Homo sapiens: one gene and its partner. The protein of the gene in region 1 interacts with the protein of each later gene in a pairwise test. Each region holds a gene or a part of one and is shown in the gene's direction. Other genes may lie near its edges. The genes, in order: TRAPPC10 and TRAPPC8.

Evidence for each region.
Region 2: the proteins of TRAPPC10 (region 1) and TRAPPC8 interact in a two-hybrid assay, tested with the Homo sapiens proteins (one study listed by BioGRID).

What each region holds. Positions count from the first base shown.
Region 1 is NC_000021.9:44,074,742-44,087,501, forward strand, and holds part of TRAPPC10 (trafficking protein particle complex subunit 10), read left to right. Parts: intron 1-297; coding exon 298-412; intron 413-1,707; exon of another isoform or gene 1,708-1,810; coding exon 1,811-1,887; intron 1,888-2,951; coding exon 2,952-3,043; intron 3,044-4,822; coding exon 4,823-4,963; intron 4,964-5,273; coding exon 5,274-5,386; intron 5,387-8,046; coding exon 8,047-8,561; intron 8,562-9,380; coding exon 9,381-9,522; intron 9,523-9,846; coding exon of another isoform or gene 9,847-9,957; intron 9,958-12,060; coding exon 12,061-12,219; intron 12,220-12,760. UniProt on the Homo sapiens protein: Specific subunit of the TRAPP (transport protein particle) II complex, a highly conserved vesicle tethering complex that functions in late Golgi trafficking as a membrane tether.
Region 2 is NC_000018.10:31,868,202-31,880,961, reverse strand, and holds part of TRAPPC8 (trafficking protein particle complex subunit 8), read left to right. Parts: intron 1-6,257; coding exon 6,258-6,482; intron 6,483-7,423; coding exon 7,424-7,532; intron 7,533-9,841; coding exon 9,842-10,036; intron 10,037-10,459; coding exon 10,460-10,590; coding exon of another isoform or gene 10,591-10,602; exon of another isoform or gene 10,603-10,605; intron 10,606-12,760. UniProt on the Homo sapiens protein: Plays a role in endoplasmic reticulum to Golgi apparatus trafficking at a very early stage. Maintains together with TBC1D14 the cycling pool of ATG9 required for initiation of autophagy. Involved in collagen secretion.

The sequences.
Region 1 (12,760 bases):
CAGCTCACCAGGCAGAGCTGTGCTGGTGTGTGCAGCAGGTAGGCTGGGCTTATGCAGGTGCAGGCGTAGCCTGGGGAACTCAGGGAGGTGAAGGACAGAAGCGGAGGATTCCCACCCTCCAAGCCTCACTGGGAGCTGTTGTGTAGGATGTATTTTTGTATCCAGATTTGAGTCATTGGGTAGGAAAGCTAAATTTCTTCTAGAATTTAGCTGGATTTGAATTTTTATATTTAAATTCTTGAATTCCCTGCTGACTCTTACGGCAAATTAATTGAAATTGTGGATTTATCTTAACAGTTAAAGTCCTTGGGCTATCTATGTGGACTTGTGTCAGAGAAAGGACCTAACTCAGAAGATCTCAACAGGACAGTTGACCTTTTGGCAGGTTTGGGAGCTGAGCGACCAGAAACAGGTACTTTTTTGTATATACCTGTGTGAGTGGTGAGGTGGACAGTAATGAAAATGTCCTTTGCAAGTTGGCACATTTAACCGAAGTTCTAAGAGTAATCATATTACTCACCATTTGGAAAATTATACCCATTGTTAGCTGACTGGATTAAAGCACATGATAGTTTACCTTTTAACAGCATAATGCAATATTAGAAATAGTTGAAGAAATTGGAAGGAGTTTCAGAAATGTAGCTGAGTTTCTCCTGGGCTTAAGGGACTTTATAGCTCATGTTCAAATGCACCACTGTCTCTCTGAATTACAGATGATCTGTTTTTCTAACAATACGACCTGACGATTTTTTTTTTTTTTAAGAGACAGGGTCTCACTCTGTTGCCCAGACTGGAGTGTAGTGGCACAATCTTGGCTCACTGCAGCCTCGACCTCCTGGGCTCAAGGGATCCTCTTGCCTCACCCTCCCAGGTAGCTGGGACTACAGGTGTGTGCTACCATACTTGGCTAATTTTTTAATTTTTTGTAGAGATGGAGTCTCGCTGTATTGCCCAGGCTGGTCTCAAACTCCTGGCCTAAAGTGATCCTCCTGCCCTGGCCTCCCAGCAAATTTTTTAAAATAAATTGGCTGGGCACGGTGGCTCCCACCTGTAATCCCAGCACTTTGGGAGGCCGAGGTGGGCGGATCACCTGAGGTCAGGAATTCGAGACCAGCCTGACCAACATGGAGAAACCCCATCTCTACTAAAAATACAAAATTAGCCGGGTGTGGTGGTGCATGCCTGTAATCCCAGCTATTCGGGAGGCTGAGGCAGGAGAATCGCTTGAACCTGGGAGGTGGAGGTTGTGGTGAACAAAGATTGCTCCATTGCACTCCAGCCTGGGCAACAAGAGCAAAACTCTGTCAAAAAAAAAAAAAAATTCTCCTGGATAATAAGGCTCTTTGAAAGGAGGATTACTCATTGTTTTACGTAGGAATATATGATGAGTATTATTTAGCAAGACTGTTGCTAAAGAATATCTGATGAGCTGAAAACATTCTTAGTAAATTGAATAAATGTTTAAGGGAAAAAATACGTAGTATTTATATTTCATTGTTTCAACTTGAGACCATTTCAGATCACTTCGGAAGTAATTTAATTCATCGGAGTATTTGTAATATATGTTTCTAAAAAAGTTTAGTTCTAAAGATCAGAGAAAAAGCATGACACAAAGCGTTTTGACTATTTTATGAATATGTGAATTGAAAGAGAATGTACATAATCATGTAGTTTCCGTTGGCATTGGCCGGTTTGTAATTTCACAAGAGTCAGATGAGGTCATCTACCTGCAGTATGTGAAGGTGAATGTAAAGTCATGTGACTGGACATGATGAAGATGAAGAGGGACTCTCGTTTCTTTCTGTTTAAGCCAACACAGCTCAGAGTCCTTATAAGAAACTGAAAGAAGCATTATCGTCAGTGGAAGCTTTTGAAAAACACTACTTAGTAAGTATTAACAAGTGTTCAATGTCTGTTCTGTGAATACCTGTCTCTAGAAGGCTTTGCTACATGGCCTGTTGAGTTGGGAAGGAACTGGTGTGGGGGGCCCCTTCTTGTTGGTTTTTTTTAGTTTCTTTGGTACCTGGGGAGTTGTGGACAAAACATGGAGTAGTTCATCAAATGTGTATTAGTGCCCATGGTACCATGCTAGGCATGGAATCATCTTTGAATATTTACCGTTTTGTTCAAATTGGGTTTGCTCACACAGAAATTATAAGAGAGGCTAGTGAATACTTTTCTTTGTAAAAAGGAGTAATTTGGACTTGGGCAGAGCTATTGTATTTGATTTTGAAAGACTTAAATTAGCAAAACTTTAAAAAACGGCGTAGGCAGAAGTGTGGTGGGTCAGCGTCATTCCCGGGTCATGGGCAACTTGAGCGTTTGGTCTGCCCGTAATGGCTGTACCTCTTATACACACAAGTATGAAAAATACCCAGCATGTCACCCACGTGCAGAAAGTCCTTGGAAAAGTTAGATGTTTTGGATGAGTTTGTGGGTTTCTTTTATTATTATGCTTCATAATTTATACACAGGTTACCAATTTTGCTTATATATTACAGAAAAATTCACAAAAATAGATGCAAAGGAAAAAATAATGTTACATTATTAGCAATGTCTTCTGCGGGCTGGGCATGGTGGCTCACGCCTGTAATTCAGCACTTTGGGAGGCTGAGGCAGGTGGATCACTTGAGGTCAGGAGTTTGAGACCAGCCTAGCCAACATGGTGAAATCCTGTCTCTGCTAAAGATACAAAAAATTAGCCGGGCCTGGTGGCGCCTGTAGTCCCAGCTACTTGGGAAGCTGAGGCACAAGAATCACTTCAACCTATGAGGCGGAGGTTGCAGTGAGCTGAGATCTCACCGCTGTGCTCCAGCCTGGGCGATGGAGCAAGACTCTGTCTCAAAACAAAAACCCAACAATGTCTTTTGTGTGAGCTTTAGGTGAATAAATGTAGTATTTGTCCATCATTAAAAGTTCAAGTACATAATTGTGTTTTTACTTCCCCACAGGATTTGTCCCATGCCACCATTGAAATGTATACAAGCATTGGGAGGATTCGATCTGCTAAGTTTGTTGGAAAAGATCTGGCAGAGTTTTACATGTAATTGATTTTGTACTTTTCTTTGAATTCTAAACATACAAATAACACGAGAAGATTTGTTATATATGGAGTTAGTATAAAGTGCACATAAATTTGTAGACTGAAAAGTGTAGATTCTCTTACCCAGTCCTCATAATTTTTTTTTCAGTTTCTTCTGAAAACCAGATGGAGAGATTTTCTGCTTGTTACTCTTAATAACTGTTATTGGTCTTTGAGGTTCTTTTATTTAATTAAATATATACATTTTTGTAACTAAGTTTAATTAAAGAATTATAAGACAGTATAATGGTGAGTAAATTGGCATATAGATTCTTACATATTTTGTTATATAGCATTTCTCTAATTTTATCAAGTATTAAGAGGACTGAAAAACCTCAAGGCCATTGATGTAAAGCTACTGCATGTGTCAGGTTCATGAAAGAGGGATGATCTAGGGATGACTGGAAGAAGGTGTGTACAAAGACTGCAGGGTTTCCATTCCAGCTCCAGCTTTGAAGTTTGATTCCAGAAAAACTCAAAATTTAGCGTATTTCTGGTGTGTTTCATAAAATCAGACTATCAAAGAGAAGAAACCCCAGTGGGTCATGTGGTTACCATTTCAGAGTACTCAAAGGAGATACAAGCTATAAGGAAAAAGATGCTTGTTTTCATTTTCTAAAAAAAAAAAAAAAAAAAGTGATTGAAATGAGATCTTGAAATCTGTACTCAAGTGATTTCATTAGGTGAAGCAAGAAATGAGAATTGATTTGAACTGATGTGAATTGGCTGGAAAGGGATTCTTAGATCAGCTAAGTGAACTTTCTGGTTTTCCGGATGTGGTTGGAGCAGCTTTGCCGATTACCCACTGGTTAACAGCAGAGTCACAGCTAGAATGTAGCTCTCTTGAACTTCCATGCTGTGTATCTGAAGAGGAAGGTGCTCCTTAAGGAAGCAGAGAGGCTTCTCGGGAAAGGGGAGGGGATCCTTGTTGCTCCTGAGGCTTTGACAAGCCCTTATTAATTTGCATTTTAAAGGCAGGCAAGGCCGCACACACCAGTAGTCCCAGCTACAGTGGAGGAGGCTGAGGCGGGAGGATCACTTGAGCTGAGGAGTTTGAGACTGCAGTGAGCTATGATCACACCACTGTATTCCAGCCTGAGTGACAGAGCAAGACCCCATCTTTAAAAAAAACAGTTGTGCTTTAAACTTTGCTTTGGGGGCCAAGTGTGGCTATTTTAATTCTCCGGCGTTCTCTGGAAGCTGGATCCTGTGGAGTGCTCTTTGCCTGAGTTTCCAAGTGGCTCTGTGCTCCCTTCCGCTTGCGCCCTGTAGACTGCTTCTGTGTTTCTGTGCCTTTAGTAGGTAGTGTAGACCCATACTTGGACTTCCTGGCTTCATTGCTGACTAGCAGTGTACTTGTGGACAAGCCCTTCCTTCACCTTCTCTTAGCCTTGGCCCTCTTGCCTGTCAGCTTGAGATCATGAATGATAGGCTCACTTTCTTATCCTGAGATTCAGCTATGAAAGTTCCTCGACATGTGTATAAAGCCAGACCAACGATGTGTTGTGCTCTTATCACCACACGCTCATTTCTCAGATCTTTGCCTGGGAGTCTAATTATGTCGTCCTGAGTAGGTACTCTTTCTCACGGAGTGGGGTGGGTGGAAAAGGGCTATCTAGAGATGTTGAGTCTGTCCTGGCATGGGGTCTGGAGGATGGAGGCCAAAGCGGGAGAGATGGGGTTTCAGTGTGTTGATTATCCCTAGCTGTAATGAAAGCTACTGTTTGTTGACTTTGCAAGGAGGAAAAAGGCTCCACAAAAGGCAGAAATCTATCTTCAAGGAGCACTGAAAAACTACCTGGCTGAGGGCTGGGCACTCCCCATCACACACACAAGGAAGCAGCTGGCCGAATGTCAAAAGCACCTTGGACAAATTGAAAAGTATCCTTTAATGTTTTCATGAAGCAGGAAAATTATTTTCTGTTTATACGGCAACATTGCCCACAATCAATGTTTCATTCACACCTATTATTAAGGAGAGAAAAGTCCTAACTTATACATATGTATTGTATAGAAAATGAATGAAATGTCTAGTCGATTTTTTATAATCTAATTTTGAGCCCTAGTAACTTAAAAAAAAAAAGCCCTTTGGCTTTTGAAGCCTCTGTGAAGGCCGTAGGAGACTTTGCATCCACTTCCCCCCGCACTCCTAAGTATGAGCCTCTCCACGCTCCTTACCTCTCCGCTCCAGCTACCTGCAGACCAGCAGCCTCTTAGCCAGTGACCACCACCTCACTGAAGAGGAGCGCAAGCACTTCTGCCAGGAGATACTTGACTTTGCCAGCCAGCCGTCAGACAGCCCAGGTAAGACCAGTTCTTACAACTTGACTAGGAATATTTTCAAATATTACAGAAGTAAAAAAGAATACAAGATATACCAACCACTTACAGTAAACAGTTGCTAACATTTTGCTGTGTAGCTGACATGTATCTATGTCTTTCACCTGACTTTTTTTTTTATTTTTGCTTTAAGTCAAACTCTAGACCACATTAGATCTTCTAAAAATAAGGACAGTCTCTTAACCACACCCAAAGAATTAATAAGGTTCTAATATCATCTGCTAAGTAGGCCATATTCATATTTCCCTAATTGTCTTAAAGTATTTTATAAATCATTTTTAATGGAGTCCAACAGGATATCACATATTACATGTGGTTGTTAGATCTCAGTTCTCTTTTAATGTAAAAAAAGTTCTTCCCATCTCTTTTTCTTCTTCTTCTTTTTTTTTTTTGAGACAGAGTCTCGCTCTGTTGTCCAGGCTGTAGTGCAATGGTGCCATCTCAGCTCACCACAACCTCCGTCTCCCGGGTTCAAGCAATTCTCCTGCCTCAGCCTCCCAAGTAGCTGGGGTTACGTGCGCCCGCCACCATGCCCTGCTAATTTTTTGTATTTTTAGTAGAGACAGTGTTTTGCTCTGTTGGCCAGGCTGGTCTCAGACTCCTGACCTCAGGTGATCCACCCACCTCAGCCTCCCAAAGGGCTGGGATTACAGATGTGAGCCACCGCACCCAGTCTTTTTCTTCATTTTTTAAGATGGTGCTTTTTTTTTTTTTTAAAATGTAACAGCATTATTGTGATATTCACAAACCATGTAATTCACTCATTTGAAGTTTATAATTCAATGGCTTTTAGTCTGTTTCAGGAATATGTGCAACCATTACCACAGTCAATATTATTGTTCTTTTTTTTTTTCTTTTTTTTTTTTTTTTTTTTGACTATCTTGCTCTCTTGCCTGGGCTGGAGTGCAGTGGCACGATCCCAGCTCACTGTAGCCTCAACCTTCTGGAGTCAAGAGATCCTCTTACTTTGGCTTCCTGAGTGGCAGGGACCACAGGTGTGGGCCACCACACCCAGCTATTTTTTTTCTTCTCTGTCTCCCAGGTTGGAGTGCAGTGGCATGATTGTAGCCCACTGCAACCTCTGCTTTTTGGGCTCAATTGCTCCTCCCACCTCCACCTCCTGTGTAGCTTGGACTACAGGAGCATACCACCATGCCTGGCTAATTTTTGTATTTTTAGTAGAGATGGTTTTGCCATATTGCCCAGGCTGGTCTTTAACTCCTGAGCTCAAGGAATCTACACACCTCGGTCTCCCAAAGTGCTGGAATTACAGATGTGAGCCACCATGCCTGGCCACCACAGTCAATTTTAAAACATATTTATCACCCTAAAAAGAAACCCCATACTGTAATCCCCAAAGTGCTGGGATTACAGGCGTGAGCCACCACGCTGGGCCCCAGATGCTTGTAAGTGAATACACCCCAGCAGTCAATAACCACATCAACCTGACCCTGAAACTTCTAGGAACTTCTGCCTGCCCTGGGAGGCCGGGGCAGGCAGATCACTTGAGGTCAGGAGTTTGAGACCAGCCTGGGCAACATGGCGAAACCCTGTCTCTACAAAAAATTAGCCAGGTGTGGTGGCGGGCACCTGTAGTCCCAGCTACCCAGGAGGCTGAGGTAGGAGGATCGCTTGAGCCCAGGAGAACTGGGCTGTAGTGAGCCAAGATGGTGCCACTATACTATAGCCTGGGCGACAGAGCGAGACCCTGTCTCAAAGAAAGGGGGACAACAAAAGATCCATGTGGGTGGGTTTCTCGGGAGCATCATGACGTTAGTCTGTGGAGTCTTTAACGCGCCCAAGCTGACTGTTGGTAGAGCCGTGACCACATCTGCTGCTGCTTTGTATTTGAGACTATTTGAGTTGTGATGTTCCTGCCAACGTTCCTTGGTATCTCTATACGAATAAAATATTCCACAATCGTTTACTGTTTCTCATGATCTATGGCATCAGTCTTGGCAAGTCCTTTCGTTGATGAATATTTAATAAATACTTAACTGGTCACTTCTGCAGCCTTGTGTATTTTCTAGACAAAACCAAGGTACTTACAGTTCGGTCAGAGAGAGAAGGGCCCAGAGAGAGCATTAGGCTCTCATTCCAGCAGCAACTGTAGACCTGGCTGGTTGCTGCCATCCTGGGCCTGGGGGCACAGAGGGGTCCTGCTTAATCGGCTGACTTTGTAGACTGGCAGACACCTGGGGTTTGTTTCCACATCACAGCAGGGCACTTGGGCATCTTCACTGAGCATGTTTTTAAGTAGGTGAGAAAATATTGGAATCCCTTGGAAATAGCTGTAGAAATTGGACTATTTACAAATTGTCGTTTGAAATTGAGAGGTAGTTGACCTGTATTTCTCTTAGGTTTGTCAAAGCAGACTTGAGAAGGTTAATTTCTGTACATTTTATGATTTCTAGGCATTACGTAGGTATTTGCTAATATTCTGCTTTTGATACAATAGCCTTTGGGGGGTGTGAAGATGGCAGGAGGCTGGGCTCAGCTGCTGTGCCCATCACTGCTGCTTGCTTCAGTCTGCTCTCGGTGATCTTACTGTGTCCGCGGCCTGCTGCTGCTTACTGTCAGGAAGTGTGACTTGGGGAGTCACTTACGATAATGTCTATTTACAGGTCATAAGATAGTGCTACCCATGCATTCCTTTGCACAACTGCGAGATCTCCATTTTGATCCCTCCAATGCCGTGGTCCACGTGGGCGGCGTTTTGTGCGTTGAGATAACCATGTACAGCCAGATGCCTGTGCCTGTTCACGTGGAGCAGATTGTGGTCAATGTCCACTTCAGCATTGAGAAAAACAGCTACCGGAAGACTGCGGAGTGGCTTACCAAGCACAAGACGTCCAATGGGATCATTAACTTTCCACCCGAGACCGCACCTTTCCCTGTATCCCAAAACAGTTTGCCCGCGCTGGAGTTGTATGAAATGTTTGAGAGAAGCCCATCTGATAACTCCTTGAACACGACTGGGATTATCTGCAGAAACGTCCACATGCTCCTGAGAAGGCAGGAGAGCAGCTCCTCTCTAGAGATGCCCTCAGGGGTGGCTCTGGAGGAGGGTGCCCACGTGCTGAGGTGCAGCCACGTGACCCTGGAACCAGGGGCCAACCAGATAACATTCAGGACTCAGGTATGCGTTCAGGGTGGGAACTTGACTTTCAAGTTTGTAAAGCAGGGCCGTGGAGCTTACAAGAACTGTCTGGAGTGTGCTGTGAATTGAGTAGAGTCCTTTGTTCTCCTAACCCTGTTTTTGTCTCTGTCCTTATACAAAAATACACTGATGTTTTCTTTCGTGTTTTATACAATTTTCTGACATTTGATAAATTCTGAGTGAAGTTCTTAACGTAGATATTTGTTCTTAGATTAAGTTAGCTTTTTAACTCATTGGATTATTGGATTCAGTTAGCTTTCCCCCCTGCATATGAAAATACACACCCTCATTTGTTAAAATGAGCTTTCAAAGAAGGTGGTACACTTTCCCACTCAAACTTATTTTCCTTTTGTGGCTGGCTGGGTGTCAAAACTGGTGTTTCTCACCCACTCTAACATAAAGTTTTCTCTGACACAGGATATCCTGTAAGTTCCACTAACTCAACAGGATTTGGCCTGTGGAAAGTACAGCTATTTGTCACATTTTTTAGTCTAGGGCAGGGCTTAAATCTCGTGCTGAATGTCTCTACAATGCCACAAATACAGTTTAGATAAGTTGAAAATACCTTATTAAAGTTAAATTTAAGCATCAGTTACTCAGAAAATCACGAATTGAGAGATTCTGAGGGCCTTGTGAAGAGCCCAAGCTTAGAGGTTTAGGCACAAGAGCAGGGGGTACAAGAGGGAAAGAAGTACAGGCCTTTCTGGAGTTCAGAGAGACCGCTGCACCGCGCTACCGCAGGAAGCTAACTGCAAAACTGGGTGACGTGGTTTCAAATGCCTGATTCTTTGACTCTAGGCCAAGGAACCTGGAACGTATACACTCAGGCAGCTGTGCGCCTCGGTGGGCTCCGTGTGGTTCGTCCTCCCTCACATCTACCCCATTGTGCAGTACGACGTGTACTCACAGGAGCCCCAGCTGCACGTGGAGCCGCTGGCTGGTGAGTGGGGTCCCCAGCCTTTGAGGAGGCGTGCTGCTGGGGCAGTTCTGAGGAGACCTGCTGAGATGCCAGGCTTCTCATAAGTTTTAGCTGTGTCTGCCTTTAAGAGATATTTTGGGTAACATAATGGAAATTTTGCCTGGGAACTAGCTGACTGCCTCTTTTGTTTATCTGAATGTTTGCTTTCCTGTAATTGCTTTTTCATGTTTAATAAACATGGTGTATCTGAAAATAAGAAACACAGAAGAATTAGCTCTGAGAGTGGAAAAAAGAAACTCAAGGTATTTTTTTCTATTGGCTCACTCAACCTAATGGTCAATGCAGAGGACTTCTGGGCCCAAATGTGCAGGGATTTCCCCCTGCCAGCAAGCAAGCAGTCGGTCCTGCAATTCAGTTCTGACCCTGTCTACTGGAGCTGGCGTCAGACACCACAGGGTGAGGGCTCAGTCCCCAAGACAGTCCCCCCCTTCCCATGCCAGCCACCAGCCCAGGGTTCTTTTGCTTGTGCTCCTGACCAACTAGCTAGAAATCAGGGCTCTCACAACCCCCTTTCTGGGTTTGATGAATTTGTTAGAACAGCTCACAGAACTCAGGGAAACAGGTTGACTGGATTATTATAAGGGATATAGATGAAGAAGTGTGGAGGGTGAGGTATGGGGAAAGGGGTGCAGAGCTTCCACGCCCTCCCTGGGCGCCACCCTCCAGGAACCTCCATGTGTTCAGCTGCCTGAAAGCTCTCCAGACCCTGTCCTTTGGTTTTTATGGAAGTGACATTACACAGGCATGATCGATTACACCACTGGCCACTGATGAGCAACTCGACCTTCAGCCCCTCTTTCCTCCCTGGAGGTTGGGTGCCACTGCTGAAAGGCCCGACCCTCTAATCCTGCCCTGGTCATTCTGGTGACCAGTCCTCATCTTGAAGCTACCTTGGAGCTGCCAGCCTCCAATCAACTCATTAGCCTACAAAAAGACATCACTTTGGAGATTCTAAGGAATTTGGGAGCTAGTATGCCTGGAAATGGGGTTGAAAACTACATGTGTATTTTACAGTGTCACATTAGGCCAAGAAGCAGCTAATGTCTACCACAGGGTTTCATAAATATGTATATAATTTCCTGCTTAGAAGTACGTTTCAAATGCTAAACACTAGATTTAGTTAGGATCTATACTCAGATCCCAGCACTTTGGGAGGCCAAGGCTTTGAGACCAGCATGGGTAAGCCAGTCGGGGCAGGATGACAAAACCCCATCTCTGCAAAATAAAAAAATGAAGTAAATTAGCTGGGTGTAGTCGTGCGCCACGGCCTCTAGTCCTAGCTACAGGCTGGAGCCCCAGCTGAGGCTCCTGCCTCAGCCTCCTGAGCCCAGGAGTTTGAGGCCTCAGGGAGCTGTGATTGCGCCACTGTTCTCCAGCGTGGGTGACAGAACAAAACTCCATCTCTTAAAAAAAAAAAAAGTTTTCCTTTGAAAGGGTTGATTAAACTTGTCCGTCTGGCATGGCATTTGAGAAATTCAAAGCTATTGTCCTTTCTGATAAGTTCTAAAATTGGAAGGAGTTGCTATAAACAAATGATTGAAGAACATGTGGCAGCTGAACAAGAGTGAGTGAATGTCTCCTTTGTTCGGGCTAGCAACGATTTATTTATTTGCCTGTTTCTTCTACGTGGAAAAAAATCACAAAGGGCATTTTTCTGTTATTCCCCCATTCCCCCTATTTTTCTGCATTTGTGCCTCTTGTGTGGCCACCAGCAAAGGCTGTCAGATGTGGGACACAGCAGTCAGTCTCTCCAGTGATTCTTCCATTGGAACATTGTGTAGAGAAGCTGAACTCGATTCCCGCAGGGGAGCCGAAGCACCAGCCAGCAGGCCCTGCCCTCCCCATGGCCCAGCGGCTGCAGTGCCAGGCTCATGGCCTGGCTCCTGCTTCCTGCCTAGTGTCCCCTGTCTCTGTCCACTCTCCCCCCGGTCCTGGTATCTTGCCTGCCTTCTGTCTTCCCTGCAGCAGGATTCTCAGAGGCCTCAGCTCACTCCTGCCTCTCATTGCTGTCTTGGAGTGAGGGGGAGCCACCTGACTGCTGACTGTTCTTAACCCAAAAGCCCGTGGCCTGAAGCTGAAAAATCCAGAGAAGGTTTTGAATATTTGAGCAGCACCAGCACAGTCAAGTTTTCTTTACAGTCTCTTCTTAAGCCTCATTATGTGATTCTCTTCTACTACTAATGGGCAGGCAAATTTTGTGACCCTCAGAGACGTAGTCATGATCATAATCCCTGACTTGCTGAACCAAGATGGGTATAAGACTCCTTGACTCACAGGATTCTTTTTTCCCCAGCAAGGTTCTCCTTCAACCCTGTAGTCCACATCATTGAGATGAAAAGTTAGGGCAGAAGGGAATGGAAGTAGAAGGAATTCATGGAGATCCCAAAGGAGCAAATCTTTCATAGTAAAAGAAATAGAGCCCCTTTCACCCCATTGCGGGCCCTGAGATGCTGTCTTCCGGTTGGCAGCGGTGCTGAGCCACGATCTCTTTTCCTTTAGATAGCCTTCTGGCAGGCATTCCTCAGAGAGTCAAGTTCACTGTCACTACCGGCCATTATACGATAAAGAATGGAGACAGCCTGCAGCTTAGCAATGCCGAAGCCATGCTCATCCTGTGCCAGGCGGAGAGCAGGGCTGTGGTCTACTCCAACACGAGAGGTGAGGTGCCGCCCACCCAGGCCCAAGGAGGATGCCCACCTTGCCCTGCACTGTGTGGGTGTGAGGGTGAGCCTGGCCTTGCTGCCATCCTGCTGAGCGCCCCTCAACAGTGTCTGGAGTCCGTGTTCCATAGGAGCCCTGCGGCCTGATGCCTGTGCTGGGGTCCCATCTGAGGTGATAAACTGAGAGTGGTTCACACGCTGAGTGGCCGAGCAGTGCTTGTCTGGCTGAGGATTAGGAGATGGGGGTCACGGCTGGGGTCACGTTCCATGGTGATGCCTGCCAGACCCTGTCCCCCTTGGGCTGGCCCTGCTCCCGAGAAGCAAAAGCAGAGCAGCCCTTGCAGGTGCTGTTGAGAGCCCTGAGCACTCCCATCCTCCCAGCCACGAGGAAGGGGAAGGGGAGGACCCTGCTCCCCTGGGGTGGGGGTGGATCTGCGGATGAGCTGGAACGGGAGAAAGTCATGCAGGGACCTACACAGGACTTGGGTGGGCCCCGTGGGAAATGCCCTTTTCCTCTCTTCAGATTGAGATCAATGATG
Region 2 (12,760 bases), on another chromosome or scaffold:
CTCTTTTACCTCCTTGGTTAAATGTATTCCAGGTATTTTATTTTGTGTGTGTGTGGCAGTTGTAAATGGGATTGAGTTCTTACTTGGTTCTCATCCTGAGTTTTATGACTGTATAGAAACACAACTGATTTTTGTGCATTAAATTTGTATCATGAAACTGCTGAAGTCATTTATCCTAATGACTACTGTCTTTAGGAGGAATCTTTAGGTTTTCTAGGTATAGGATCTTGTCATCATTGAACAAAGATCATTTCACTTCCTCTTTTCCTATTTGGATGCTTTTTCTTCTTTCTCTTGCGTGATTGCTGTGGCTAGGACTTCTAGTACTATGTTGAATAGAAGTGGTGTGAGTGCAGAGTGTACATCCTTGTCTTGTTCCCCTTCTTAGGGGGAATGCTTTCAACTTTTCCCCATTCAATATGATTTTGGCTGTGAGTTTGTCATATATGGGTCTTATTATTTTTAGGTATGTTTCTTACAGTGCTTAGTTTGTTAAGAGCTTTTATCATGAAGGGATTTTGGACTTTATTGAATGCTTTTTCTGTATCTATTGAGATGATCATATGGTTTTTAATTCTCTTTATGTGGTGAGTAACATTTATTGGTTTGCAAATATTGAACCATCCTTGTATTTCTGGAATAAAACCCACTGGATTGTGATTAATTTGACTTTTTGATGTCCAGCTGGATTTGGTTTGCTAGTATTTTATTGATGGTTTTTGCATCTGTGTTCATCATGGGTATTGACTTGTTTTCTTTTTGTGTGTATGTCCTTGCCAGATTTTGATATCAGGATGATATTAGTTAAGGAGGAATCTTTCTTCCTTAAAAAAAAAAAAATATATATATATATATATATATATATATATATTTTTTTTTTCAATAGTTTCAGTAAAATTGGTACCAGCTCTTCTTTGTGCATATGGTAGAATTTGGCTTTGAATCCAGCTATCTTGGGCTTCATTTGGTTGTTTATTTATTTTTTTTTTTAATTACTGATGGAATTTTGTAACTACTTAATGACCTATTCAAGATTTGAGTTTCTTCCTTGTTCAGTCTTGGGAGATTGTATGATTCTGGGAATTAACCCATTTCCTCTAGGTTTTCTAGTTTGTGTGCATAGAGGTTCATAGTATTCTCTGAGGACCTTTTGTATTTCTGTGGTATCAGTTGTGATGTCACCTTTGTCATATCTGATTGTGCTTATTAAAATCATCTCTTCTTTTTCTTGCTTAATCTTGCCTAGTAGTCTCATCAATTTTGTTTGTGTTTTCAAATAACTTTATTTTGTTGATTCTTTGTATGATTTCTTTGGTCTCAATTTCATTTAAAGAATAAAGATCTGCTCTGATCTTTATTTCTTTTCTTTTGCCAGCTTGGGCTTGGTTTGTTCTTGTTTCTGTTTCCTCTAGATGTGACATTATTAATTTGAGATCTGTCTTTTTGATATAAGCATTTAGTGCTGTAAACTTTCCTCTTAACACTGCTTTTGCTGTATCCAAGAGGTATTGATATGTTGTGTTTCTGTGTTCATTTGTTTCAAAATTTTTTTAAATTTCTGCCTTAATTTCATTGTTTACCCTAAAGTCATTCAATACCAAGTTGCTTAGTTTCCATGTACTCGTATGGTTTTGAGCGTTCCTCCTGGTATTGATTTCTAATTTTATTCCACTGTGGTCTGAGAAGATCCTTGATATGATTTTGACTTTTTAAAATTTTTTGAGACTTGCTTTGTGACCCAGTATATGGTCAACTTCAGAGAATGTTCCATGCACAGATAAGAAAAATGTATATCCTGTAGTTGTCAGTTGGAATCTTCTGTAGACGTCTATTAGGTCCATTTGGTCAAAAGTCCGATTTAATTCCAGAGTTTCTTTGTTAGTTTTCTTCCTCGATGATCTGTCTAGTGTTGTCAGTGGGGTGTTGAAGTCCCCCAGTATTACTGTATGGCTGCTTGTCTTGTCTTCAGTCTAGTAGTATTTGTTTTATAAATTTGGATGCTCTGGTATTGAGTGTGTATATGTTTAGGCTAGTTAAATCTTCTTGTTGAATTGAACTCTTTATCATTATATAATTCCCTTCTTTGTCTTTTTTTTTATGTTGTTGGTTTAAAGTCCATTTTATTTGATAACAAGAATAACAACCCCTGCTCTTTTTTGTTTTCCATTTGCGTGATTGATCTTTCTCCACCCCTTGACTTTGAGCCTGTGGATCTCGTTACACAGAAGATAGGTCTCTTGTAGATAGCATATGCTTGGATCTTGTCTTTTGAGTAGAACAATTAAGCTATTTTTGTTCAAAGTTAATATTGATAAGTGAGGTTTTGTATTTGTCATAATGTTGTTAGTTGCTTTGTAGTCCCAATTGTATAACTGCCTTATAGGATCTTTGAACTTTGTACTTACGTGTATCTTTATGGTTAGCAGGTATCATCCTTTTGTTTCCGTGTTTAGAACTCCTTTGAGCATTTCTTGTAGAGCTGGTCGGGTGGTGACAAATTTCTTTAGCATTTTCTTGTCTGAGAAATACTATTTTTTCCTTCAATTATGAAGCTTAGTTTGGCAGGCTGTAAAATTCTTGGCTAGTAGTTTTTTTGTTTTTGTTTTTATTTGTCATTAAAAAGGGTAAAAACAGGCCCCAAATCTCTTTTTGTTGGTAAGGTTTCTTCTGAGAAGTCTGTTGTTAGTCTGATAATATTTACTTTATAGATTATTTGATCCTTTTTGGGATGGGGTGCACCAGTTGCTCATCCTGAGCAGACAGAAGCTTCCTTATCACGCCCCGGTCAGAGGGCTCACAACCATCAGTTCATGTAGACTTTGTCCATTAGGCTCTGACCAGAGTACACTTCCACCAAAACGGGCAGCTGCCACCAAAATGGGCTCAGGGCGGAACTTCTTCCTCTAGTACAGAGTAAACAGCTTTGCAGCTTGTCCACCTTCTGTTGCCCGGATGCTTCTCTGTAGGGAGGGGGAATTGGGCCTTGCCCTTCCTGCAAGCCCAGTTGGCATGGGGTCACTTTTTTTTTTTTTTTTTTTGAGACAGAGTTTTGCACTTGTTACCCAGGCTGGAGTGCAATGGTGCGATCTCGGCTCACTGCAATCTCTGCCTCCTGGATTCAAGCGATTCTCCTGCCTCAGCCTCCCGAGTAGCTGGGATTACAGGCACGCGCCACCACGCCTGGCTAATTTTGTATTTTTAGTAGAGACGGGGTTTCACCATGTTGGTCAGGCTGGTTTCAAACTCTCAACCTCAGGTGATCCACCCGCCTTGGCCTCCCAAAGTGCCTGGGATTATAGGCGTGAGCCACCGTGCCTGGCCATGGGCTCACTTTTTTTTTTTTTTTTTTTTGAGACGGAGTCTCCCTGTTGCCCAGGCTGGAATGCAGTGGCGCGATCTTGGCTCACTGCAGGCTCCGCCCCCCGGGGTTCATGCCATTCTCTTGCCTCAGCCTCCCGAGTAGGTGGGACTACAGGCGCCCGCCACCTCACCCCGGTAATGTTTTGTATTTTTAGTAGAGACGGGGTTTCACCGTGTTAGCCAGGATGGTCTCGATCTCCTGACCTTGTGATCTGCCTGCCTCGGCCTCCCAAAGTGCTGGGATTACAGGTGTGAGCCACCGCGCCCGGCCAGGCTCACTTTTAGCTGTGATGGAGCCACCACAAAAAGCATGAAAAGTGCTTTCCCCAAGGACACGTCTGCCAGCTCCCAGCAGGGAGAACCTCTCCTGTGTTCACAACAGTGGATGGGGTGGGCGGGAAATGATCCCCTCTTCATGTTCATTTCCAGCCGCTGGGGCTGCCCACTTCAGCGATTGTTGCTTGCTTGCATTACCTTTGTCTCAAGGTGGGGCTTTGGCAGGCTACTGTCCCCCCTTCCCCTAGGGGCAGCCTAAATTAACGGTTACATCTCCATGGGTCTCACACCTTCTCTGGGGACCCACTGGTCTCCTAAACTTGCTAATGTCACAGCAGTTGTGAATATGTTAGGGATCTGGTGGTGCGGTGGTGACTCAAGAGCAGAGATTTCCTGGGCAGGGCAGTGGTATCTCCTGTCTCAGTTCAGGCCTGAAAGGAGGGCGGGCATGCCTGTGTGAGCTGGCCACCCACATCCTTGTCCCTGGGACGTTCTCAAACTGCCACTGTTAGTGTTGTCCTGCATCATGAGGGCAGAGGGACTCCCCATCAGTTGGATGGTGAACAGATGGTCAGAGGGGTGAGGGCAGCAGAGAAGTACTCCCACTTACCCTTTCCATGGGGTTTTGTGTTCCTCAGCACTCGATCCCTGCCAAACTCTTGTTGTTTTTCTTTCCTGCACTCTAGTTTCTTTCCATGGGTTCTTCATCATATCCTGGCTGTCTTTTCTCAGTTTTCTGTTTGGATAATTAGTTACTTTGATCTTTCTGAGGAGAACTGGCATCTGAGGATCTGAGGTCCCTAGTAAGTGATCTTTTTTTTTTTTTTTTTTTTTTTGAGATGGAGTCTCGCAGTGTAGCCCAGGCTGGAGTGCAGTGGCACAATCTTGGCTTACTGTAAGCTCCGCCTCCTAGGTTTATGCCATTCTCTTGCCTCAGCCTCCTGAGTAGCTGGGACTTCAGGCGCCCGCCACCATGCCCGGCTAATTTTTTGTATTTTTAGTAGAGACAGTGTTTCACCATGATAGCCAGGATGGTCTCAATCTCCTGACCTCATGATCTGCCCGCCTCAGCCTTCCAAAGTGCTGGGATTACAGGCGTGAGCCACCCCTCCCGGCTGTAAGCGATCTTGAAGAAAATACTCTCCTTTTAAAAAAATTGATACATAATAAACATACATAGTTTGGGGTATAATACGTGATAATTTCATACATTCATATAATTTATAAAGATCAAGTCAGTGAACTTGGGATATCCATCACCTTAGAACCATTCAAATTCTCTATTTTGAAATGTAGAGTAGATGGTTGTAAACTATAGTCACCCTGCTGATCTGTCTAACGCTAGGTCTTATTTCTTCTATCAAACCATGTATTTGTACCCATTAATCAACTTCATTCTCTATCACCCACTCTCCCTGGCCTTTGGTAACCACCAGTCCACTCTCTATTTTCATGAAATCCACTGTTTTAGCTCCCACATATGAGTGAGAACATGCAGGATCTGTCTTTCTGTGTACCTCTTTTGATTTTTTACATTGATGATGTTTATTGCCACAAATATTGCATTCTTATTGCAATACTTGTAAGATTTTGGCATTCCTTGCAATTTTCCATTTTGAACACACATCTTGTATATCATTCTGGTATATTATTAATCTCTTGCTCTTCTTAAGTCCTGCAGTAAATGCACTGAATACCAGGAAGTATGCCCTGACACTTGCCAACAGCACCTTGAAAAGGAGGCTGTGGTAGCACCTGATGCTGGCAGAGAACCCCGTCATGTCTTGCCCAGGCAGTGTTTACTGTGCTGCTGTCCTAGCCCACTGCTTTATTTGAACCGTGTGAGGCATAACCTTTCAGTGGTCACAACACTGGCCAGTGAGTTCTGGCAGGCAGGCAGGCAGGCAGGCAGGCTGGGATCAGCATGGTTGGTCCAGTATGTGAATTTTTAATATAGAAAAAAAAAGTTTATTTATATATTATTATATATACTACTATATATATTATTATATATTATTTGTACTGTGGAAAACTGTGGCATATGTGGCCACATACATTCAATGTAAGTCTCTGATCGTAGGCAAGAAAAAACTTTGATAAATGTGTTTATTGTTTTACTTAATATGGAGAAACTCTTTGTAGACATAGCATGCTTCTAGTTAAAGTATGAGAACATTTTTTTCATCATCATATTAGTGAAATCTGACCATTTTAAATGTTGAAGTTTGTTTACATATCCCTTGCCTTTTTCCAGAAAGAATTTAAGGTAGATAAAGTCAAGTTGAGAAGTAAGCTCTTTCCTCTGAAGTTGACGTTTTGAAATTGTGGCTCAGAGAAGTAGTGGGTAAATGTCAAAGCAGTCTGGCCTCCCTTTTCTTCCTTTAGGTACCCTACTCCTATCTAACGCACACACACAATGGCTCAGGTAACTTTATCTATATCATTCCATATATAATTGTGAAGGGATTATCATAAATGTTAGTTTTATTTTCTTCATTATCCCAGTCCCCCTTAGAGGAAGAACCAGTTACTTAATTGTTTCTATGTGTGTGTTTGTATTTGTTTTTTCTAGTTCAAACAAATTTGGAGTATAATACATTATTTTGTTTATTTTCTTACAGAAAAAGCATGCTTTACGCTGTTATTGTCAAGCCATGCAAGTTTACAAAGGAAAAGGCTGGTCTCTTGCAGAGGATCACATTAATTTCACTATTGGGCGCCAGTCCTATACTCTTAGACAGCTGGATAATGCTGTGTCTGCTTTTAGGCATATTCTAATTAATGAAAGTAAACAATCTGCTGCTCAACAGGGGGCTTTCCTCAGAGAATATCTTTATGTTTACAAGGTGACTGCTTATTTTCATTCAGGAATAGATATTAAAACTGTATTTTAGTGTGAAAGTATTTATTTATTACCATATCTTACGATAGTTTTATTAGAATATATGTAGTTATCAGTCATAAAAAAGCTGTGGCAGGCTAGGCTTTTTGGCTATAGATCTTGGTTACATTGCCCCTTCCACAGTTCTTGAAAAGAGAATTTTAATATTACAATGAACACTTGATTTGTGGCTGTTCTTAGAATCTTAAAAAAAAAAAAGATTCCACAGGTTTTCTGGATTCTTTATTCATCATGCTTTTATAGACTCACAACTGATTTTACAGTTGGTTTTAAGTGGGTTCTCTTTACCATCCTTTGGAGATGGACATTCTATGTTCTTTTCCTTGTGAAAGATGAGGGGGTATGGATCTGTGGAAAGTAGACAGGCTATTATGGTGCAATGGAGAAAAATTAACAGGAAGAAGGACTGTTTCACTGAGGCAAGCAGATAAACATATAAAGCATTGTTTTATGGAAAAAATGGGAAGTTGTAAATTTTTTCCCAAGGCCTATGAATAGTGCATATTATATCTATCGTGCAGAAAATAACTACCTTTAGGGTCTAGACTTTATTAATTTGAAATTATATGGGTTAGAATTTTGGCAGATAGGATGCTATAATGAGTCATAAGAAGTAAAACGCTTACTAAAATAAGTTTTGCATATTTAACATCCAGGTAATTAGCTGAGTAACCTCAGTAAGATTCTTTTGAGGCAGAATAAATATCTGAAGTGCTTCTGAGTTGTAAAATTTTATGACTGATATGAGAAATAAAACTAGTAATTACATATCTTAATATTCTTGCTTAACATATTTTTAATGCCTTGTGTATTAAGAAACGAGGAAACAAATAAAAATACCATTTTCACAAAAACTACTTTTTTTCCCTTTTATATTTCTCTCAGAATGTAAGTCAGCTGTCACCAGATGGTCCTTTGCCACAGCTTCCTTTACCGTATATTAACAGTTCAGCAACACGGGTTTTTTTTGGCCATGACAGACGACCAGCGGATGGTTAGTAAAGTTTTATTTAGCCTAATTACCTAATGACAATTTAAAAAAAACTTCTTTTCCTTTCTCCATTTAAAAAACGATGTATAGTTGAATATTTGAAAATTAATAGCTCAGCCGGGTACGATTGGCTCATGCCTGTAATCCCAGCACTTTGGGAGGCTGAGGCCGGCAGATCATGAGGTCAGGAGATCGAGACCATCCTGGCTAACATGGTGAAACCCCATCTCTACTAAAAATACAAAAAATTAGCTGGGCGTGGTGGCACATGCTTGTAGTCCCATCAACTCAAGAGGCTGAGGTAGGAGAATGGCGTGAACCCGGGAGGCGGAGGTTGCAGTGAGCTGAGATCACGACACTGCACTCCAGCCTGGGCGACAGAGTGAAACTTTGTCTCAAAAAAAAAAAAAAAAAAAAAAAAAAAAGGAAAATGAATAGCTCTCTATTACTTCTTTTGTCCTGTCACCTGAAGATAACTACTATTTTGGTGTTTCTCTTTCCAGCTTTAAAAACTAAAAACAATGAAATGAAAACAAAACAGTTGTAATTACAACAGCTTTTCTCACTTAAAGAATGCTTTTGTTATTATATAATCTTCATAAACGTTTAATGTTAGTAAAATATTCTATTCAGTGCTTATAAAGTACTTTATTTTAACATCCACTTGATATATATAGACTGTTTCCATCTTTTGCTTATATAAAATTATATTGTGGCCGGGTGTGGTGGCTCACACCTGTAATCCCAGCACTTTGGGAGGCCAAGACGGGCAGATCATGAGGTCAAGAGATTGAGACCATCCTGGCCAACATGGTGAAACCCTGTCTCTACTAAAAATACAAAAAACTAGCTGGGCGTGGTGGCATGCGCCTGTAGTCCCAGCTACTCGGGAGGCTGAATCAGGAGAATCGCTTGAACCCAGGAGGCGGAGGTTGCAGTAGCCGAGATCTCGCCACTGCGCTCCAGCAAGACTGTCTCAAAAAAAAAAAATCGTATTGTGATGGACATCTTTGTAGATAAAATTTGTTTTTTAAATGTCTTATGGAAATTTTCAAATGTACATAGAAGTAAAGAACAGTTACCAATGTTCTGCTGTTCTTGTAAGACTTTTTTTTAAATGCAGGATGATTTATTTAGGATTGAACCCTAGAATGGCAATAATGGAACAAAAGTATAAATATATTAAGCTCTTCATTATCTTACATTAAATAACTCAGAAACAGAAAGTCAAATACTACATGCTCCCATCGATAACTGGGGTTGGAGCTAAATAATGTGTACACATAGACATTGAGACTTGGGAGGGTAGGGAATGAAGGATGAGAAATTACTTATGGGTACAATGTATACTATTTGGGTGATGGCTACACGAAAAGCCCAGACTTTGCCACCAAGAAAATATGTCTGTATAACAAAACATAACTTGTACCCCCTAAATCTATACAAATATATTTTATATAAATGCATATATTTTAAAGCTCTCGATGGCTGTTAAACTTTGTCATTCTAAACATTCTTATATTTGAATTTAATCAACGTTTCTCCTTGAGATACGATTTAGTATTTTTTTTTTAAATTGTCATATTCATAGTAGCATTGTTTGTAGTAGCAAAAGAGTGAAAGAAATAGAATTCCTAATAGAGGATTAATTGATATGGTTTTGTATATTCACATAATGGATTCATGCTGCAGTACATGAGAATTCATGCTAATTCTACATTTCCCACAACTTGATGCTGAGTGAAGAGTCAATTACAGTATAAGTTTCAAACATAAAAACTAATTTTATGCATTTTTTAGATATACTTATGTGGTAAAATCATGGATGAAAATGATACACTTTAACTTTGGAATACCTCTGGGAAGAAGTGATGCCAGTGGGGGCGAAGGAGAGTAATAAGATTGGGGGTGGTGCAGAGAGGACATCGACTCTATCTGTGATGTTTTTTTTTTATTAAAAATATTTGGGATCATAGGTGAAAGTTGACATTTGTTAAATTTTAGTATACAAATATTTGTTATATTAGTCTCCATGCCTTTTCTGTATATTTGAAATGTTTTATATAAAAATTGCTTGTGGACACGAGGGAAAATACATTCTTTCAGAGTCAGGAGGAAAAGAACATCAGTATTATAAGCAAAATCCAGATAAGCTAGGATTAATGAGAGGATATTTTTCACTCAGAATTAGAAATAGGCAAGAGTGAATGTATATATATATATTTTTTTATTTCTGTACCTTATGTCTATTTAAAATATGTTTTATTTGAGGGCAAGTCTTCATAAACGTGTTGTTAACAAATTTTTTTTAGGTGAAAAACAAGCAGCTACTCATGTAAGTCTTGATCAAGAATATGATTCTGAATCCTCTCAGCAGTGGCGAGAACTTGAGGAACAAGTTGTTTCTGTGGTTAACAAAGGAGTAATTCCATCCAATTTTCATCCCACACAATACTGTTTGAACAGTTACTCAGATAATTCAAGATTTCCACTTGCAGTTGTAGAAGGTGATATACTTGAATTTTTATTTCTGTTTTTTATTTGTTTTACTTACAGCATGATGAAGATAATTTATTGTTTGGCACACATAATTGGTGCTGGGGATGCAAAAATAAATTAGGAACTCATAATTTACTGAGCTGCATTTATAAAACCAGACAAGGGGGACTCTTCTACAGCTATTTGCAATGTGATGTTGGAATATACAAGAGGGAATGGCATTCTTTAGTACAGAGAAATTGGGGAAATCTTTTCAAGGAGGTAATGTAGTATTACAACAGAATCCTGAATACGTGGACATTTATAAGGTAATAAAGGACAGTCTAGGCAGAAATGCAGAGCTATGAAAGCAAGATGCATTTAGAAGATCGAAGCTGAGAATGAGGTGTGATGTTTATTAAAGTTATTAATTTAGGCCTTTTTTTTAATAGAACCAATTACAGTGGAAGTGGCTTTTAGAAACCCTTTGAAAGTTCTACTTTTGTTGACTGATTTGTCATTGCTTTGGAAGTTTCATCCTAAAGATTTCAGTGGAAAGGATAATGAAGAAGTTAAACAACTAGTAAGTTATTAAAAGGTATTTGTAATTATGTTTCAGCTACAGCCTAACAAATGCTGTAGTAACATTTCAATGTACTCTGTTCAGTGAGCTATACTTCTTTTTGGTTTATTTTTCCTTAGTTATAAAAATTATGATATGTACTTATTTTTGAAAATTGAAAATACATAAAAACATAAGGAATAGAAGTGAAACCATCTGTCTTCATAATATTTAGAAATAACCACTTTAACATTTTGCTGTGTATCTTTCCAGTCATTTTGTTTTTATTTTTTTTTTTTTTGAGACAGAGTCTCACGCTGTTGCCCAGGCTGGAGTGCAGTGGCGCCATCTCGGCTCACTGCAACCTCTGCCTCCCAGGTTCAAGTGATTCTCCTGCCTCAGCCTCCTGAGTAGCTGGGATTACAGGCTTACCCCACCACGCCCAGCTAATTTTTGTATTTTTAGTAGGGATGGGGTTTCACCATGTTGTCCAAGCTGATCTCGAACTCCTGACCTGACCTCGTGATCCTCCCGCCTCAGCCTCCCGAAGTGCTGGGATTACAGGCATGAGCCACCGCGCCCGGCCTTCCAGTTATTTTCATTTGTATGTTTTTCCCACATATTTGGGATTCCTTCATACTGTGTATGTTGCTTTTTACATTCTGTGTTGTTTTATAGGCGTATTCTGATATCAAAGTGTCTTAATATTTTATTTTTGCATAATATTCCATCATATGAGTGATTCATAAGCTATTTTACTATCTTTGATAGTTTTTTGGCAAGTTTCCATTTGTTGACTATCACGGTAATACTGTGGTGCACTTTTTTGTGTGTGGCTTTTTACCTTTAGATTATTTTTGTGGGGAAGATTCCAGGGCATGAAGTGAAGATTTTAGGGAAAAGTATTGTAGTGCCCTGCTGGTTTCATAAAAGTTCATACCAATGAGCTTCTTACTAAGCAGCATATGGGTTTGGGTGTCTAATCTTTATGACAGTAAGCAGTATTAACTTAAAAACTTTGTTGATTTGATATTTTTAAAATGCCATCTTAACTGTTTTATTTTCCATTTCATTGATTGCTGGTGAAGTTGAAACTCTTTGTTTTTCCTCTTTTGTGAATTGCCTATTCAAAACCTCATTTATATTTTTTTCTTTTCATTTCCGTGTCTAATAAGTCCTTTATGTATCTAAGATACTTAATTTTGAAGCAGAAATGATGTGGCCAAATAGTTTCTTTATTAATACCCACCTGACTGTAAATGAAATAACTTGGACAAATAGATATATTTACTTACTAATTTATTAGTTTAGTCACCAGTATCTATCATATAACTTGCTTTTTTTATACTACCTTGCTAAATGCTTTAATAATGTGGCAAAAAAAAAAAAAGGATTTTGGAACTGGGAAATAACCCAGCATTTTGGTGCTCAAGTGTTTTGATTTTTTCAAGATTGCCTTATTTTAAGTCTTGCTCTAGCCTAGGCAACATAGTGAGACCCCCATCTCTACAAAAATTTAAAAATTAGCCAGATGTGGTGGTACACATCTGTAGTCCCAGCTACCTGGGAGGCTGAGGTGGGAGGATTGCTTGAGTCCTGGAACCTGAGGCTGCAGTGAGCCAAGGTCATGCCATTGTACTCCAGCCTGGGAGACAGAGCAAGATCTTGTCTCAAAAAAAACCACAAAACAAGTAAACAAACAATAAAAAATAAATAAATAAATAAATAAGTCTTGCTGGTTAAATTTGTCAAAGATATTTTGTATTATTTATATTCATTGTTAATAATTTGAATGAGATTTCCCAGGCTGTATTCTGACTTGAATTTTAGCAACTTCTGCAATTTTTCTAATCTTTTGGGTGCCTGGAATACTCAGTATGAGCGGTTAAACTTGGAAACGTTTTTTAAAAAGATTTATTAGCTTTTTAAGTATATTAGTCTGTTCAATATGGGAGATTTTAAAGGAGGTTTAAAGTTAAGTGAATATTTTCATTTGTATGATGAAGTGTTTCTTAAAATAATATTTTTCTATAAATTGCAAACTCTGGATTTTTTCATGACTAAGAAATGAAGAAAATGGACTAAGATGGTGATGGACTAAGATGCTGAACTGGAATGTAGGGAGTTTTTTGTTTCTTGTGCTAAATAATGTCATGGTGAAAGTATAATAGCGTTTATGAGGATCAGGTTT